Linked DNA regions of Homo sapiens. The protein of the gene in region 2 interacts with the protein of the main gene of each other region in a biochemical or structural test. Each region holds a gene or a part of one and is shown on either strand. Other genes may lie near its edges.

What was found. Proteins that work in one complex are often made in the same cells at the same time.
Region 1: the proteins of LIMK2 (region 2) and SCN4B interact in a test that uses a peptide from one of them, tested with the Homo sapiens proteins (one large-scale study listed by IntAct).
Region 3: the proteins of LIMK2 (region 2) and PKP4 interact in a test that uses a peptide from one of them, tested with the Homo sapiens proteins (one large-scale study listed by IntAct).
Region 4: the proteins of LIMK2 (region 2) and RNF146 interact in a test that uses a peptide from one of them, tested with the Homo sapiens proteins (one large-scale study listed by IntAct).

What each region holds. Positions count from the first base shown.
Region 1 is NC_000011.10:118,132,353-118,136,777, forward strand, and holds the end of SCN4B (sodium channel regulatory subunit beta-4 isoform 1 precursor), read right to left. Parts: 3' UTR 1,025-4,425; downstream 1-1,024. UniProt on the Homo sapiens protein: Regulatory subunit of multiple voltage-gated sodium (Nav) channels directly mediating the depolarization of excitable membranes.
Region 2 is NC_000022.11:31,263,389-31,269,154, reverse strand, and holds part of LIMK2 (LIM domain kinase 2), read right to left. Parts: intron 3,210-5,766; coding exon 3,023-3,209; intron 2,172-3,022; coding exon 2,085-2,171; intron 1,380-2,084; coding exon 1,248-1,379; intron 1,012-1,247; coding exon 955-1,011; intron 1-954. UniProt on the Homo sapiens protein: Serine/threonine-protein kinase that plays an essential role in the regulation of actin filament dynamics. Acts downstream of several Rho family GTPase signal transduction pathways.
Region 3 is NC_000002.12:158,675,998-158,679,964, forward strand, and holds part of PKP4 (plakophilin-4), read left to right. Parts: intron 1-741; coding exon 742-870; intron 871-2,583; coding exon 2,584-2,657; intron 2,658-3,248; exon of another isoform or gene 3,249-3,392; intron 3,393-3,967. UniProt on the Homo sapiens protein: Plays a role as a regulator of Rho activity during cytokinesis. May play a role in junctional plaques.
Region 4 is NC_000006.12:127,282,910-127,286,986, forward strand, and holds part of RNF146 (E3 ubiquitin-protein ligase RNF146), read left to right. Parts: exon of another isoform or gene 1-2,439; intron 2,440-3,140; exon of another isoform or gene 3,141-3,268; intron 3,269-3,706; coding exon 3,707-4,077. UniProt on the Homo sapiens protein: E3 ubiquitin-protein ligase that specifically binds poly-ADP-ribosylated (PARsylated) proteins and mediates their ubiquitination and subsequent degradation. May regulate many important biological processes, such as cell survival and DNA damage response.

The DNA.
Region 1 (4,425 bases), on a different chromosome or scaffold from region 2:
AAAGGAAGTAGGGATGAAACAGAGCAATGACAGAGACCTAATCAGACCTGGGGACTGATCCTTACAGGGGTAACTGCAAGTTCAATGCATAGCATCCCAAGTGTTCTAAACCCAGGCTTGCCCCAGGAAACCCCAATATCCAACCGGTGTATTGCAGATGGGAAGGTAGCAGGAGGTCCCAGGCAACAGGAAGTACCTGAAGACAGGAAAGTGGCTGCGTGGGGAACCCGGGTGGTGAATCCATTCAGGGCAGAAGTGCAGCGCACAGTCTCTATAGCTGAGGGCTGGAGGAAGCAGAGCTGGCAGGGACATCTGCCGAAACTGATTCTGCGTACCTGGAGTCCTTGACGGAGAAGAGAGGGTCTTTCAACAAGCTCTTCTGAGTACTGAGGTACTGAGTACCTCACACTGAAATACTGAGTACCTCACACTGAAGTACTGAGTACCTCACACTGAAATGCAGTGTGAGGTGAATCCATTGAAGAGAGGAATACGGTATGGTAAGAAATTGTGGTATGAGAAAGTCCAAGAATATAAGCAAACACCTACACGTTGGTACATATCCCCAGTTCCTTCCCAGGCACTGGCCTTATGCCCAGCACCCGGAAACTCTTTGGAAGGTAGGCGTTCATGTGAAGCGGATTTTACCTGGACCTAACTAACCCGGGGAAGGGAAGGAGAGAGTGAGCCTGGGGGAGGAGCTGTTGTGATATTTGTGGTGCCAGGGTCACGACCAAGGTCATCCATACCAGGAGGGCCCTGGCAATGATTCCAGTATTAAAGAGCCACGTTGCCAACTTCTCCAGAGAAGGTATAGGAATGAAAACGACCCAAACACCTGTGAATGTGCCAGATGTTCTTAGGCAGTTTGCCTGTGTTATTTCACCTAGGCAGGTAACATTTTAGACACAAACAGATTGAGGCTCAGAGAAGGTAAAGAAACTTGTCCTAAGCACAGCTGGCAAGAAATAAAACTGGAACCCAACTCCCAACCAGTCAAAAATGGAAGCCCCCAAATCCCAAATTATTAAACATAATTTTTATTTCATCCAAGGCAAAGCTAAATACAATTCTACAATGCAAAACTTGTTGTAGAGGCCAGACTGATTATATCCGTTCTGTGCTCGAACACAAGTCAGTGCTGGCTGTGTGGGCATCTGCGCCTCCCAGAGGCACTCGCACACCTGAGGCCTCCCAAGGCCTGTTGTTGCATCATTTGATCTATAGTTACATAGGAAAATTGACTATGGGTATTGTTGTCATCCAAGCCAGAGGAATAAACCATGCATAAGATAGTCAAAAGCACTGCATATCAGGTGGGAGGTGGGAGGGTAGGGACTCCAACCTGGGACAAAGTAAAGTAAAGCAAGTTATAGGATTTTCCCGAGAAGTCCCCGCTCCTGGAACTCCCTACTGCCAGCCCTCTGATGGCAGCTGTCTGTGACACTGAGATGAAGTCATGGAGTGACGGAATGCAGGAGCACGGCTGGTCTTCTCTGCCTTTGATTCTTTCTCAGTCTCCAGATGCCTCAACAGGCATAGCTCAGGCCAAGAAAGACGGCTCCTCAAATGTCCAGCATCTGCCCATCATGCATCACCCCTTACATGCAGAGCCCATCCACTCCACAGTTACGCTGCCATGCACCCACACTGCCTGCACACGCACACTCCACACAAGCACACCCCACCTCCTGCCATCTCACAAGCATGCTCTCAAGCCCTCGCTCCACAAGAGCTCTGATCGGCCTGCCATATGTAGTCTGAGCCCCATCGGCTGCTCTCCCCAGGCCTCTCTAACATCAGGGGTTTATTCGGGCTGCCTTCTGTTCAATTACGACATGGGGAGAAGCCCAGAACCTGGAATGCTGATTTCATATTTTGTAGTTGATGAGGAGCTCAGAACTTTGTCTTTAGTCTCGCTGACATCACTCAGCCCAGCTGCATGTGGCCAGGTCTCTCAAGATCGACTTTGTAAGTGGCTCTCTCTAGCCCACAAGCCCTGGAAGCCACCATCAGAGATTTGCATGCACTGAGGTTCCACTTGGGGAAGATAGCTTTGCCCATATACATCCTAGTGCAAATCCATGCCAGTGTTTCTCCATGGGTATAATGTTGACATGGGACAGGATGATTCTTTGTTGTGGGGACTAAGTTTAGCATTCTTAGTAGTGCCCCCACGCATGGGGGCAACCAAAAATGCCCCCCCTACAATCTCAGTCACCTCTATTGAAAACCATCAAACAAAAGCCATGGACAAGAAGCTTTAAGCATCAGAGTCAAGGTTTCTAATATTGCAAAGACTAAATAATTCCAAGGGGGGTGGGATGGAAAGAAAGAGAGAGAGAGTGTGTGTGTCTGTATGTGGGTTGTAGAGATGGGACACAGAGATGAAGACAGGACAGACTTGGAACTATCCCTGCAATTAATACCTGGCTTCCCAGATCCCTTTCCAAGCCAAAAAGATGTTTTTAGACAAAACTTGCCAAGCCTCACAACAGTCCTGTGAGGTAGGTAAGTATTATTACACCCATTTGGTAGATGGAAAGAGCTGAGCTGAGAGAAGCTGCATGATCCATCTAGAAATCAGCAGTAGACCCTGGGGAGGAAAGAGAGGATGGTGCCCTTCTTCTCCCTACTCTACGTGCCTTGGCTTTCTCTTAAGACAGAAGGAGGAGCCCCAAGGTGCTCTGCCTCTTCAAATGTCACCATTGAGAAGGAAGAAGAAAACAGTTTTGCATGAAGGTAGCTATAAGAAGTTTTCTGAATGGCTGGTGGCTCTGGTCTGTCTGCTCCCAAAGCCAGGAAAATCTGAGCCCCAGCCCATGACAGGTTCTGGGTAGAGAAGAATGGGAGGCGCACAGGCAGATCAGACGGGGAACTGGTGAGCCCAGCAGGTTGGCTAAGGGACACTGGCCACAGCCACGGGCACCCTGCAGGTACTACTGGTCCTCAGTCTCCCCCCACTCCACCCTTGCGAGGCTTGCAGCTGCTTTTTGACAGGGAGAGCTCTGAGGTAGACCCCAAACTCTCTGAAAAAGGGGGCTACTCCTCTCTCATCCCTCCTAGGGGCCCAGAAGACAGGGCATCAAAAAATCAGTAAGGGAGAGAGGGATTGGAAGTAGATGGGCAGAGAGGCTTGTTACCACTTTTCCCTGCCATCCCTGGCCTCACCAATTCTGCCCAACAAGGACTCAGGAGATCCCACTCCCAACATCACCACCTCCCCCTAGGGCAGGCTAGAAACCCCAATGGGAGCACCTGGCCGACATCTCCAAGATTCAGTCACTGGCCAATTCCAGCCTCATGGCCCCCTCTATGACCCTGGGGAGGGGAGGGCTGGCGAACCCTCACCAGCACCACACCAGACTCTGCTGTTATGTCAGGACATACCGTCTAGAGAGGATGGGGGTAAGGGCTAGGATTCAGGACTAAGGCACATTCTAGCCCCACACACAAGGGCTGTGCAAACCAGCTCTGGGAGAAGCAAAGGAAAACTGTGGGCACCCACTCCCTGCTCCTCCCCAACCCCAGGGTGGGAGGGGGTGGCCCAGCTGAGCAGGAAGCAGCTGGGAAACCCAAGGACCCCCTCATCCAAAGGAAGAGAGTCCCTGAGGCGAAGGCAGGCCCTTGACCCAGGGCTGGGAAATGAACCACCCTGGGGGCAGGGCGTGATGGAGGGCACGGTGGGGGGGGGGGAGCGAGCCAATGGGAGGTTGGAGGGTGCAGCCTCTCAGGTAGGAGGGGGAGAAGCAGGGGAGAGCTGGGCTCAGGAGTGCCCAGAGTGGCGATGGTCCTGCCATGCCAGGGGAGGGGCTGCCAGCATTGGCAGCAATGGGGCGGGCATCCCAGAGGCCCAGGACACTGGCTCACTACCTCTGTGGCCCAATTCCCCAAGTAGAAATGCTTGGAAAGGCATAGGGAGCACTCGGGTACTCCAGGAAGGCTCGAGGGGCCCCTTCCTGAGCCCCTCAGTAACCCAGAGAGCAGAGGAGCAGGCTAGGTGGCCAGGAACCCTCAAGACCAGGGTGGCCAGCCCTGGTTGAGAGGGCTTAAAAACTCTGAGCAGGGGAGGGGATAGGCAGATAGGGTCCCGGGGCAGGGGAAAGGAAGTTTCCTACTTGGAAGACTGTGGGGGATCTGGTATCCTATGAAGCAGAGGCAGTCTCTCACTGTGGGCCTGCCCCCATCAGCCCCCACCCCAGGTCTTCTCCAGAGGCCTCCAGCCCACTCCCACCTCCAAAGGAAGCCACTTCTTCCTACACCCCATCTCCAGGGTGCAGCTCTTAGGACATCCCTTACGGATCCTCCCAGTCTCTTGTGAAGAGAAGCCTGGAGGAAAATCAAGGCCCTGCTTGTGCAGGGTAGGGAGACTGAAGGAGACCCCATCTGCCCAGGTGTCAGGGGACCAGCCCCTCCACACCACCC
Region 2 (5,766 bases):
CAGTCTGGGCAACAGAGCAATATCCTTTCTCAAAACAACAACAACAAAAAAACCTCCTTCCTGATTCAAGCCCCAGAAACAGGAAAAAAAAACAAAAAAACAAACAAACAAACAAACAAAAAAACCAAAAAGCCAGTCAACCAAAAAACTCTTTTACATTTGTCTCCTATAGTCCAGACTCCATAGCTTAAAACACAGCGACCTTGATGTACCCCCAAACTGTTCCAGACTACTACTATTTTCATGGACCCCCATGTGAAGGGCAGTGGCTAAAGTCTCAGGCTTGGCGACCAGACTGATTAGCCCAGGATCCCAGCTCTGTCCCTTTCCAGTCCAGCTTATCTGGAAACCAAGGTTGTCATGAGGAATAAACATGCACATGCATGTTAATCCCTCAGCCCAGTGCCTAGCATATAGAGGGCACTCAGTACTTGTCAGCTGTTATTATTTCTATGCTTGGAATCATTTGTTTCCAGGTGAAATAGATGATTTTCTCCTCTTTCCTCCCAGGTCTTTGCTCCTGTCACTTCAATCCTGGTGCCTCTCTGCCAATAAGAACTTTATCCAATTCTGATCCTTCAGGGCTCCGCTAGAACTCATTTCCCCTTCATTGATTTCCTAGGCAGTGAGGTGCTCTAGTTGGTCTAAGGGCCCTCAGCACCTGAATACCTGTGATGGCAAGCCCAGGCCATCTCAGGCTACAGTTTGCCTCTCCAGTTTGCCTTGTCCGTGCCCTGTTTGCCTTTAGAGATGTGTAATTCTTTGAAAACAGGGCTGTGAACTGAGAACAGTTGGCTGGGGTCAGTTTCAGTGACACAGACAAACTCAATGAATAGCTGCTGACCCAGCCCACACAAGTTGCATAGGAAGGGGTCTCTACCTTCCAGTGAAGCCCACAATTCTCACACCTCTCCCTACTCTCGCCCTGCTGGCAGGTTTGTTGGTGGGACTCACCATTCCGGAGGCGATTCCTTTGGCAAACCTGACCTTCTGCTGCCAGGGGAACGGATCCTGCAGAATGGGGAATGATTTTCAGAGGCTGTTGAGCCCTGTCCCACTCGTGGTCCAGGCCCCATGGGTCAATGTGGTCTCCCAGTGAAGCCTCCCTGTGTATGCTCAGTCCCACCCAGCATGGTCCTTTGGAGGCAAAGCAGGGCCCCTCTGCCCTTTAAGCTCCTAGGGTAGTGATAGCATAGGTGTCTGACAACCCACCAAGGCTCCTGGAGACTATGGGGTGGTGTGCTCACCATACTGCGCAGAAAGTCCTTCAGTGTGCCCCCCTCAATGTACTCTGTCAGGAGGTTCAGCTTCTTATCCTTGTACAGCACACCAATGAACTTGAGCACATTGGGGTGGTCCAGGCTGCGCATCACTTTCACCTGGGGGTGGGGGAAGCCAAGGAAAGCTGGTGGTTAACTTCTCACTGTCTTCCTTACCTCTTCCCTCCAAGGAATCAGCTTGACAAGTGTTACCACCTGTATCTCCTACCTCCTATCTTGTGATATGACAGGGCACTAAGATCAGGATGAGGGAAGACCACCACCATATAGATGGAGATGGCTTCATAGGCCTTACCCTTGGAACTGCATTGGGAGAACTGGGGTGGGAGTGGCCAAGTGGCTTGGAGGGCAATACCCAGACCACAGGTGTCCCCAACTTAAGTTACTCCATGAAGTAACTTGGGAGGGGTAGTGAAAACTGTAAATGCCCAAGGAGTGTGAGTGCTCAGGGAGCTCCCCTCCAGGCTCCCTTAGCAGGGCGTTCAGGTGAGGATTATAACATTGAGTTGTACTAAATTGGAGTGTTTTCATGTCCATCATCCTCATAACCTGAGAGCTCTTCTGAACCCTGTATCTTTTGTTACTGCATCCCTTGTACCCTGTTTGTGTTGCTTTTAGTAAGTGTTCATTGAACAAATAATTACGCTGTAATTTAGAGGGAGTGGGATATTCCTCTAGGGCTCTTTTCTGCTTAGTCTTTAAGACAGTAATTCCAAACTGTATTTTCTCTTGAAGCCATTATTTGTAAGGTCTTCTCTCTTCCAATGGTGACACCAACCTCCCGGGCCCCCTCCATCTTCTTACCTCAGTCAGAAAAGTTTTCTGGGTCTCCTCATCACATCGAATTAACTCTTTCATGACCATCACTTTGCCCGTGGCTTTGTGTGTCACCTACAGGGAGGGTGACTGTTAATGGTGCTGAGACCAGAGGAAGTTCTGGAGAACTGTTTGAGAAAATCTATGCAGCTGGCCATCCCATCCCTTGGAGGGCACACTGAGCCGGGTCAGAATGACAGAGTTCATGTGTGGAAGATGCAGCGTGGAGCAACATGGGACTCACACGGAAGCAAACCCTCTTTCCTGGAGAGCTGGGCATGCACAGAGGACAGGCAAGAACCCAGAAAAGGGAAGTGGGGAAGAAGGCAGGAGGGGATGCTGCCAAGCCAAGCAGGGGCTCTGGTCATTTGGCATAGAAGTGAGTCTCCTGAGTGAACAGAAGTCTGGGGGCAGGAAGGTCAGTGCCAAAGACATGCACCAGGGAGCTGGGTGGATCGGGGGTGAGCTCTCCAGCCCTGCTGCCCCCAAGCTGAGACACACGTCTTACCTGACCCCCCCTCCCAGTTCTCAGCAGAAGAGGAGGAGGAGGAGAGAAAGAGAGAGGTTAGTCCCTGAGACTGTTCACCAGGGAGGCAGGAGCCATTCCCCTGTGTGCTCCTTGTAGCATGCCCGGTACTGAGGTCTGCAGGCACCTAACAAACACCCACTGACTGGAGGCAGGAGGGCCACAGGCACAGCTCAACCCAACCTGGATCTCCAGGTCCACAAGCTCACTGTAACAGCAACATTGACCTTAGGTGGCCTGGGTGGGGGTGAAGGATACCTCTCACACCAACACCCAAAGCCAGGAAGGAGGCCTGGCATCCTGCATGGTGTGGGGTGGGGCCAAGTGATGAGAAATCCCCGAAAGACAGTGACAGAGGGACTGGGGGCAGAAGAGCAAAGCAATTGTTGCCTGCGCTCACCTTGATAGCCTGCCCAAAGAAGCCCTTCCCCAGGACCTCCCCATGGATTAGGTCACAGGGCCGGAAGATCTGCTGTGAATAGCTGCTGGAACAACGAAGGGATTCTGAGCGGCTGATGTCACGGCTGAACAGCAGGGGCTCCTTTGGGGAGCTGGGGCCAGGGGACTTGGAGATACTGTTACTGCGCCTGAAGATGAGGAAAGACGGGAGTAGGGATGTGTAGTCCTCAGAGACCGGCCAAGAAACCCTGGAGGGAGGAAACTTAGGGGCACCTGTTCATTCCAATGTCTATAGTTTAGATGTTATTATTGGGGAACAGGGGCTCTTACATCAGATGTATCATTTTGGGGTTGCTGACATCAGTCATTTATTTAAGCATAGTAAAAACACATTCAAAATGGGAACTCTGCATACATCACACATAGAACAATTAACTAGATTCTACTAGCTGATAATGCTCAGTATGTGACATATATGACAACACTGTAGATGGTAATTCACCATCTCCCATATCTGCTTGATTTAAGTACTAACTGGTTTAGAGTGATAGTTATACTAGTATCCAAAAAATGAGCAAATGGGATTTTTTTTTTTTGAGACAGAGTCTCGCTCTGTCAACCAGGCTGGAGTGCAGTGGTGTGATCTTGGCTCACTGCAACCTCTGTCTCCCTAGTTCACCTGAGTCTCATGCCTCCGCCTCCTGAGTAACTGGGACTACAGGCATGTGCCACCAGGCCCGGCTAGTTATTGTTATTATTATTATTTTTGAGACAGAGTCTCGCTCTGTCGCCCAGGCTGAAGTGCAATGGCACGATCTCGGCTCACTGCGACCTCCGCCTTCCAGGTTCAAGCGATTCTCCTGCCTCAGCCTCCCAAGTAGCTGGGAGTATAGGTGCACGCCACCACGCCCGGCTAATTTTTTTTTTTTTTTTTTTTTTTTTGATGGAGTCTCACTCTGTCGCCCAGGCTGGAGTGCAACGGCGGGATCTCCACTCACTGCAACCTCTGCCTCCCAGGTTCAAGAGATTCTCCTGCCTCAGCCTCCCAAGTAGCTGGGATTACAGGCGTGTGCCACCACAACCGAATAATTTTTGTATTTTTTTAGTAGAGATGGGGTTTCACCATGTTGGCTAGGTTGGTCTCGAACTCCTGATCTCGCGATCCATCTGTCTCGGCCTCCCTAAGTGCTGGGATTACAGGCGTGAGCCACCACACCCGGCCCTAATTTTTGTATTTTTAGTAGAGATGGGGTTTCACCATATTGGCCAGGCTAGTCTCAAACTCCTGACCTTGTGATTCGCCCACCTCGGCCTCCCAAAGTGCTGGGATTATAGGCGTGAGCCACTGCGCCCAGCCTAATTATTGTATTTTTAGTAGAGATAGGGTTTCACCATGTTGGCCAGGCTGGTCTCAAACTCCTGACCTCAAGTGATTTGCCCGCCTCGGCCTCCCAATGTGCTGGGATTACAGGCGTGAGCCACCGTGCCTGGCCAGCAAATGGGATTTTGGATGATATTTTGCACATCTTTGTACCTGTCCATGTTTCCTGAATTTTAAGATGATAAACACGTATGATTTTTACAGCAATAAAGTCACTATGTTTACATTTTCAAAAGCGGTCGATAATAGTCATGGTCAATGACTGTTATTTTCACTTACTGAAGAAGGAACAAGAAGGTTGAAGTCCACAGCACTGCAGGTGAACAGCCCTGCGAACTTTCTCTCTGGGGTATGCTCCTGCTTTACTTGGGCTACCCAGAGAGGACTGACGCTGGATGGCTCTTGGCTTGTCCCGACCTACAGGTTTACTTACCCTTGTCCTTTTGCTCTGCCTCCTGCTGACCATGCCCACCAGAGCACACAAGGCTAGCTGCCCCCCTCCTCTGCATGGTGGCTCTACAGATACCTGGCCACTCCCAAATCTTCCCTTTTCCAGGCCATGGATTTCTAGCTCTTCCCTGCCCTCTGTTGCCCTGCCTCCCACTAATTTCATCATACTGACCAAGGCCAAGAGGCAATGGGAGTGAGGGCAGCACTTTAATGAGAGGGCACTGTTTCCAACACATGCCAGCTGAGAGGGCTCTAACTTACTCAGTTTGTTTGGTGAGGAGAGTGGATAAAAAAAAACAAACTTTTTTTTTTGGAGACAAGGTCTCACTCTGTTGCCCAAGCTGTAGTACAGTGGTGTGATCAAGGCTCACTGCAGTCTTGAACTCCTGGGCTCAGGCAATCCTCCTCCTCAGCCTCTTGAGTAGCTGGGATTACAGGCATGTGCCACCATGCCCAGTTAAGTTTTTTATTCTTTGTAGAGACAGGAATGTGGCCCAGGCTGCTCCTGAACTCCTGGCCTCAAGCAATCCTCCGGCCTTGGCCTCCCAAAGTGCTGGGATTACAGGTGTGAGCCACAGTGCCCTGCCCATCTAATTAAAAACAATTATTATTATTATTTTTTTTTTGTAGAGACAGTGTCTCACTATGTTGCTCAGGCTGGTCTCAAACTCCTGTGTTCAAGCCATCCTCCGACCTAGGCCTCCCAGAGTGTTGGGATTACAGGCATGAGCCACGGTGCCTGGCCAAGAACCTGATTCTTAGTGATACTAAGAATGTGTCACGTTTACTGAACACTGTCCCTATGGCAGCACTATACAACTTTATGTCCTTTTCCACATTTAATCCTTACATAATTGGTGAGACAGCCACCTTTATCTTACCATCTTATGTCACAGATGCAGAAACAGGCTCAG
Region 3 (3,967 bases), on a different chromosome or scaffold from region 2:
TTCTGTGCCACAGTGTCCAAAAAGAGTCCTAAGGATAGATACGGTGTTACTAGATGTTGGCTGAAGCTGGGGTAAAACAGTCCTCAGTCCTCTGGGCCTTTCTGAGGTCAGGGCTTAGCACCATGTGCGCTTCCTAATGAGCCAGGCTTACTGGGTTTAAATTGTTTCCTTGATCACCATAAAAAGAATTATAAATTTTATAGAATGGGTGCTTTTATTCAAACATGTTTAGAGATGTGGATATTTTGGAAATAATTAGAAATCAAAACATGCCATAAAACTTCTGTTGGCTGAAGAGCTATACATAAAGGATAATAGGTGGGTATTTTGCAAGCAACTGAACTGGGATCATAAAATAACAAGTATAACTCTTGCATGGCTAGTAAGTTATTATCACTCAGTTTCAAACGCCTAGTCAAGACATTGAGACAGACTAGTGGGGAAAGCTGCATGATCTCTACACTGTGCCTCTTTAGCCGGGCAGCTTGCCCTCCAGCTTGAGAGTGAGCCCCGGTGTTGACTTTGCTGATTTGTGCAGTGGCAGGCCTGCATGCAGGTAGCACTTGCAGTACTTGGGTCTAGCTGCTCTTCCACTCCCAGCACCTCTGAGATATTTTCAGCACCAGCTGTGTGTCATTTCTAGTTACTGAGCTTTGTGTTTCTGGAGAGGATTTTCCACAGATACTGATGCTGATTTCTCTTTCTACCCCTCTTTCTCTCCTCCTTTGCCTCTCCCTTCAGTCGGCAGCACCTCTTCCTCACCAGCACTGTTAGGAATCAGAGACCCTCGCTCTGAATACGATAGGACCCAGCCACCTATGCAGTATTACAATAGCCAAGGGGATGCCACACATAAAGGCCTGTACCCTGGTAAGACGCCAGTTGGGTGTGTGATACAGTCTCTTGAAAAGCCGCATTTCCAGGCGCTTGGCCAGTGGCCTGGGAAGTAGCCTGTGCTTGTATTGAGACAGTCCCCCAGCAGCAAACCATGTTCCAGTCATTCCCTTTCCTACTTTGGGGATTGTTGCCTTTTCTGCTTGTTTAAAGTAAAACAAGCATGTACTTGTTTGTATGTATGTATGTATGTAGTTGTACGGTGGGCACAAATAAAAAGAGGGCTGTATCCAAATAAATCATTTCTGGCTGCTCACTGGCACAGTCCCTTTGCTCCGTCCCCTCCTGGCTCGAGCAGTCTCTGTGTTTTCCACATGCATCAGAACCGTCAGCCCAGTGTCACTTTGCAGGGGCCACATCTTCTAGACTGGCTCATCTCTTAAATTCAAACCAGAGAATGGAGATCAATTTCATTTACATTTTCATGGAGAAGAGTTTGAATAAATAGCAAAAGGTATAATGTGATTCTTCTCAACGTGATTATTTTTTAAGAATAACAAAAATAATGTTACATAGTGTTAATATTTTTATATCCTATTCAGAAAGCTGTGCATACAATTTATTTAAAGGATACCAGCCCAAAGGGTTACTAAGATTTCATACTGTTCCCATTCTCAACCGTCTGGCGATTATAACTACTTTAGATGTTCCAAATAAGTCAGTGTGAGCTACCCCACAAAAAGTACTCTTTTCTCAAACCTGTCTATTAAAAATAAATAAAAGCTGGTGGCAGCTTTACTCCTGCTGGGGGGGCAGTCTCCATTGTACTGTTGTCTTTGAAATTGTGATTTCACAGGACTATTTACTAATCGACTGTTGTTACTATGGCAATTAATAGCTCAGAAAATTGCAGATGCTACATTTCAACACCAAGCTCTGGGCAAAAGGAAATGCACATACCAACTGAAGTGCATGGTTGCTTCCGATTTGCAGCAGCCTGCTTTATCTTACAGATCACCTCTTTAGCATGCATGCCCTTCTGTATCTTCTTCGCTTGCTTCAATAAACTAATTTGCCTCAACTACGTTTCATTTTCCTCATTAAAAAAATAAAAATCTTTGCTAGCCTTAATAATAATGGAAGGGTAACATCATCAGGAGTCTACTATGGACTTTTGAAGACAATTATCTCATTATTACCAAGTTCCTTTTGTATTAAAACATACTTAAATATGCCAGGTACAAGACTGTGCCTCCATTGTTGCTCCTTCCTTGACCTGAGATTTTGAATCCCAGTTGTTTGTTTGGAAGGCATGGGGCTTGTTCGAATATTGTGTTTCGCTTCTCCTCTCTGACCCACTGCCGTAGCTCAGAGCCCTGGAAAAGGAGTGTTCCTCAGCTCAGGATCCCGTGCTGCTGTCCAAAGCCAGCTGGAGAAACCCTCCCACATGTGAGCAGAGCTTGAGCAGGAACCTTTGCGCATGGGCTCTGCACTGGCATTGCTTTTTGGGGAAACACACACAGCCTGTTTCTGCCATAGTTTTGCCATTAGCCCCCACCAGCCCTGAGGTAAGCAGCAGCCAGGCCAGATCCAGGGACCCTGAGCTGCTACCTCTCCCAGCCCGCATTGGCACTGGGGAAGACAGGCCCTGTCGGGGACAGTGCTAGCCCTAGTGCAGGGGAGACCACCCAGCCTAATGGACCAGAGTAATAAGCACTAGTTTTAATTTCATAAAATATTTTCTTACAGGCTCCAGCAAACCTTCACCAATTTACATCAGTTCCTATTCCTCACCAGCAAGAGAACAAAATAGACGGCTACAGGTGAATTTGCAATATCATTTTTACAGAAGGCTGATTAGCAGTTAACACAGTAAGGGGTCCACGTCGATTGACTTCCCAGAGCTGGGCCAACATGGCAGGGTCCTAGATGCTTTCCCTGGGGATCTTCACTCCTTGGAAACTCAACGTGTGGTTTAAGCAAAGCATTTCCACGGTAGCCTCACGTTCTTGAGTATCCACATCGGTACTGCTGAGACCACCGTGCCACTGATGGGGACAGCCGAGAAGTCTTTAGTTCATGTCTTTTGCCCAGCAGTGTCCTCTTCCCACTCTTTTTCTGTTAAGCTCTAAAATCTCTTCCAGCCTCTGAGTGAGGGAAGGTTGGTAAGCACACTTCATGCCCTCATCACATTGTTCTCTTTTGTGTATACCTCGTTCTCCATCTCGCCCCTCCCTGTCCAAGCTCCACAATTTAAAAACACTGAGTCCATCACCAGGTCTGTTTGTCTCAGTGGTCAAGGTGGACTCAGCCCCTGCCGGGATGGACCTCACTGTGGGAGAGTGGGACTGGCGGTTATAACACACCCAGGCTTTGCTTTCATGAAGGGCCTGCAGTCAGTCTCAGGTCCTTACCAGTGCCATGGCGAACTTGGACCATCTGGTCTCTCCTCTTCCCTTTCAATGACACAGAGCAGCTGGAGTTTCCTAAAACAAGACTGTATCCTGTCCTTCAGATAAGGATGTGTTCTAAGACCTCTCCTTCTCGTCATCTTTTCTCTGTAGGTGGAAGAAAAAGAACTTTCCAAGTTATTCATAATTTATGCTATGGTTTTTTAGTCAGGAAAAATAGACCAGAATCATAACTCTGGCTTGAAAGGAGAATTTAGCTCTGAAATCCTTATAATGTTAGAATGCATTGAGTTCCAGGACATGACATTGGTTTCTATGTGGTAAATTTGTTACATCTTACTAAGTAGGGGGATTTGGGCATAATCAAGAACATAGACATAATAACCATCACAATTTGAAGAAATTAGTGTGAGGTCAAAGCTAAGACTGAACAAAAGGAAATGGAGAGCAGTGTGCCCTGTGTGGGTGCCCACGTGTGCCTGGTCTTGCCCACTTACAGATGGACTTAGCCCTGGCTTGGGGAAGCCTTTTCCTCTAGAACCATATTTGCTCACGTGTGTCTCCTAATTTTACTATTCTTCTGCCTTGAGATTGCTTATTCCTTTAATATTACAACTTACAGCAGAGTTTCCAAAGTGTGACTGTTGTTCACCTAGCCACATACATCTTTTAAAATGTAGGGGTGGACTCCATCTTCATATCTGAAGTAAATGTTCTAAAAG
Region 4 (4,077 bases), on a different chromosome or scaffold from region 2:
TTCAGACTTTAAAAATCTGATTTTTAATATTTGGAGTTTTTATTGCAAGCTAAAAATTTCTTGAATACTACACATACTAAAGATCTTTTTTGCTTATAATAATTTTGCCTTTCATTTGACTAGTTGTCCAAGAAGTTTCAAGGAAATCTGAGTTCTTGGAGATTTCCACTAACTCTGCCCATACCCCTCTATATTTTGTCTTCTTGAGAAGAAGACTTAGTATTAATAGACTCTTATTAGTCTGGCAGAAATATTTCACATGGTTTATCTATTGGAAGAAGGGGATTTATACTTAAAAGTTGGAATATCACATGAAGAATTCAGTAAAAACGTCTTTGAAAGTAAATGATGTATTATACTTATTAATAGAATTGGACTAACGTCACTCCAAATTTCTGTGTATTAAATTCTTAGTTTAGTAAACTGGAAATAAATTCCCTTTTTCAAAATTAGAATTTTCTGAGACATTTATGAGATAGGGAATACCTCTTTTGATTAGCATTAATACTTGCTCTACACAAAGGGAGGGGAAAAGCTTTCTTATTTACATATTGGTATGATCATCTGCATACATTTAGTCTCCCACCTATTTTAAGATCATTGGAACTGCAAAACAGAGACTGTGTAGGGTAGATTAAAATGGTTTTTTAAAAAGCCTTGAAGTATGTCTTATAGGTAGACTAGCAGTTTGGGGTTACTTTGTGTCTATCTTGTTACACATTTTATCTCTATCTTACTTATTGCATGTGCCTCATTCAGAATTAAATAAGAAATATCACTAAGTTTTTCTGCCCATTTGTTAGTTGGTGATAGACTAACAGTATACTTGATGGGCTAAACAGAATCAGAATTTATAAATTGCTATGGCAAATTGATAGTTAAGAGTGCTTCAGATGAAATAATGACCATTTAGCTGTCTGGTGTCCATTGTTTGCAGATTAACTTTGTCCAACTTCACTTCATTCTGATGATGGAACCAAAATACCTGCACAAACAGGATTGTTTTGCCTTTCCAATTATGTTATTATAATTCATGCCTTCTCCTGGGATGATTGTAATTGCTTTCTTAGTTTTGAAATTATGTGTTTTGGTTTATTCATAAATGCAAGAGTAAGAGTCATGCAAAATATTAATCATATTAAGTAGGGTGGAGGATAATGTTTTTAGGTTGGAAACTTTTTTTTCTGTAGATAAACGAGCTGTATGTGATGGAAAACTGACTTCTTGGGCCCATTTTACTTAAAGCAAATACAATAGGTTTGGAATTATGTATTTAAAAGCATGGCATTGGTCCACGTGACATGTTGGGTGTCTTGTTTTCATTTTACCAGACTCTGTTTTTATTTATGTTTTCAGTTTATGATCCTGTCCTTTGTTCATAAGGTACTTAGATGGTTTAAGATGTAGACTTCTTATATGAAGATGTTGCTGTTGTTTTTCCAAAGTAATGGTGGTCATCAGCCCATTTTTCTATTTAGTCTCATGAATAGAATCATGAGTAGAATCTTTCTTAAATTATTACTTGTAAATGGATCACTTTCTTGTTTTCTTTTTCTTAATTGGAGCTTTAAATAAATATGGAACTTGGAACAAAAAGATTTTCAGGAATTTTATGGAAACTAACTTTTTTGACCTAAATCGAAAGGGATGAAAGTTTCTGAAAACCTAACAAAATGTGTGCACAGCCAATTCTTTTAGGGGAGGAAATAGGCAGGGAATGTGTAATTGGCTATTTTAAAAACATATGCCTTCTTTTGTAACTTATTGTTGTTTCAAGTTACAAGATCTTTGAAGGCAAGTGTTTATCTCAAAATATTTGAAAGCTTTTATAGTGCTTAACATACTAAGACGTCCTATTAGGGTTTACTTAGAACAAGCTTATCCAACTTGTGGGCCACATGTGGCCCAGGATGGCTTTGAAAGCGGCCTAACACAAATTCATAAGCTTTCTTAAAACATTATGTGATTTTTTTTTTTAGCTTATCAGCTATCATTAGTGTTAATGCATTTTATGTGTGGCCCAAGACAATTCTTTTTCTTCCAGTGTGGCCCAGGGAAACCAAAAGATTAGACACCCCTGACTTAGAACTTTCCATAGGTTAGGAGAAAGTTGTACTTTCTTGATGTCTATAACCTAGAATTTCTGGTAAAGGAATTGATTGGAAATGTTATTAAAAGTTGAAAATAATTTGGAAATTAAACATTTTAGTGATCAGTTCTTCCATTGAGACTGTGTTGGTTCCTTTACTAGATATGTGCCATCTTTTTAAAAACTTACTGTGTTGCTTCCTTTACTAGAAAATTGCCATCTTTTTGAGCCTTGTCTATTGAGGAACCAAGAACACAGAAAAGGCAGTAAAAAGAAAAAAAAGGATTGTTTGAAGATTGAATGTGCTGTGATGATAGCCTAGGATTATTGTTTTTCAATTTTTGATGAGCGTAAGCATTCTTGTTGACTATATCTTTTGTAACTACTGACCCATTTAGAATGGCAGAATTAGCTGGCAGAGAGATTGTCATTCATTTTAAGCTTTCAATCTCTGACATCTTCATCTTTATTTCTCAGTCTTTTTTACTTATCAGTGGTTTACTCCATTATTTTCTCCCCTTTTAAAATGTCTTTTTTTTTTTTTTTTTACCATGGGGAAAAAAATTAGATGTTTCCTTGGCAGGGCACAATAACACAATAAGGCTTTCATGACTTAACTTTTGATTACCTTTACACCTTCATCTCCTGCTCTTCCATTGCTTGTATGACTATTTGACTCAGTGTCTTGCATGTGCTTCTGCCTGGAATCTGCTCCACTGCCCAGCCCCTCTGAATGAACACTAAACTTTCTAACCTATGTCCATCCTCTCATCTCTCTCTTACTGTTATTTTAGTAAGTATGTTAACACATTTTGATTACGCAGGAATCAGGCCATATTGTAATTATCTGCATGTATGTTTCCTTATTTAACAGAGTAGTTGTGTGTCTTATTTATCTTTAGACCCATCAGTACTTAGTATTGTATCTGGAACATGGCAGGTGTTTAGTAAATGTTTATCTGAATCAATAAGGCAGAAATTATAAATTTTATGTCAGTGTTTAAGCTAGATACATCCAATTTGACAAATCTTTTTTCTTCTTCCTCTTCAGGGGATCTTCAATATTCATGTTATTTTCTCCTTTGGTCTTATATGATTGTTACCTTTATGAAGCTTTAGTGATTACAAAGCACTTTTTTTGTCCATTTTTACCTGAGCTTTGTAAACTCTGATTTGCAGGTAAGGAAATTTAGACTAATGGTTTAACTGAGTGCCTAAGAGCACATAATTAATAAAGGACTCTAAAACTCAGATTTTTAGATTTCTTGTCTAGCATTCATTTCACTGTATAATAGCTGCCATGATTCAAGGTATCCTTTTCCCCTCACTGGATGCAGCTTTTCATTATATAGTTCTTCAGTGTGTTTCTCCAGGGCTGATCTGTTAAGTGCACTGATGGAATTTTTATACATTCCCAAGGTATGTACAAGTAGATGCTTACAAAAAATTTTCATCGGTTGGAGAGTTTTTCCTCTACTTTCATCTTCATATCCCCATTGTCTAGTATGTGGCTTGCATATAATGCACATCATAGGTGGTTAGTGTTTTCATAATTGTTAAATTAAGATATTGCAAGAATTAAAACATGACTTTAATATTATATGTATTTTTTCTTAGGATGGCTGGCTGTGGTGAAATTGATCATTCAATAAACATGCTTCCTACAAACAGGAAAGCGAACGAGTCCTGTTCTAATACTGCACCTTCTTTAACCGTCCCTGAATGTGCCATTTGTCTGCAAACATGTGTTCATCCAGTCAGTCTGCCCTGTAAGCACGTTTTCTGCTATCTATGTGTAAAAGGAGCTTCATGGCTTGGAAAGCGGTGTGCTCTTTGTCGACAAGAAATTCCCGAGGATTTCCTTGACAAGCCAACCTTGTTGTCACCAGAAGAACTCAAGGCAGCAAGTAGAGGAAATGGTGAATATGCATGGTATTATGAAGGAAGAAATGGGTGGTGGCAGTACGATGAGCGCACTAGTAGAGAGC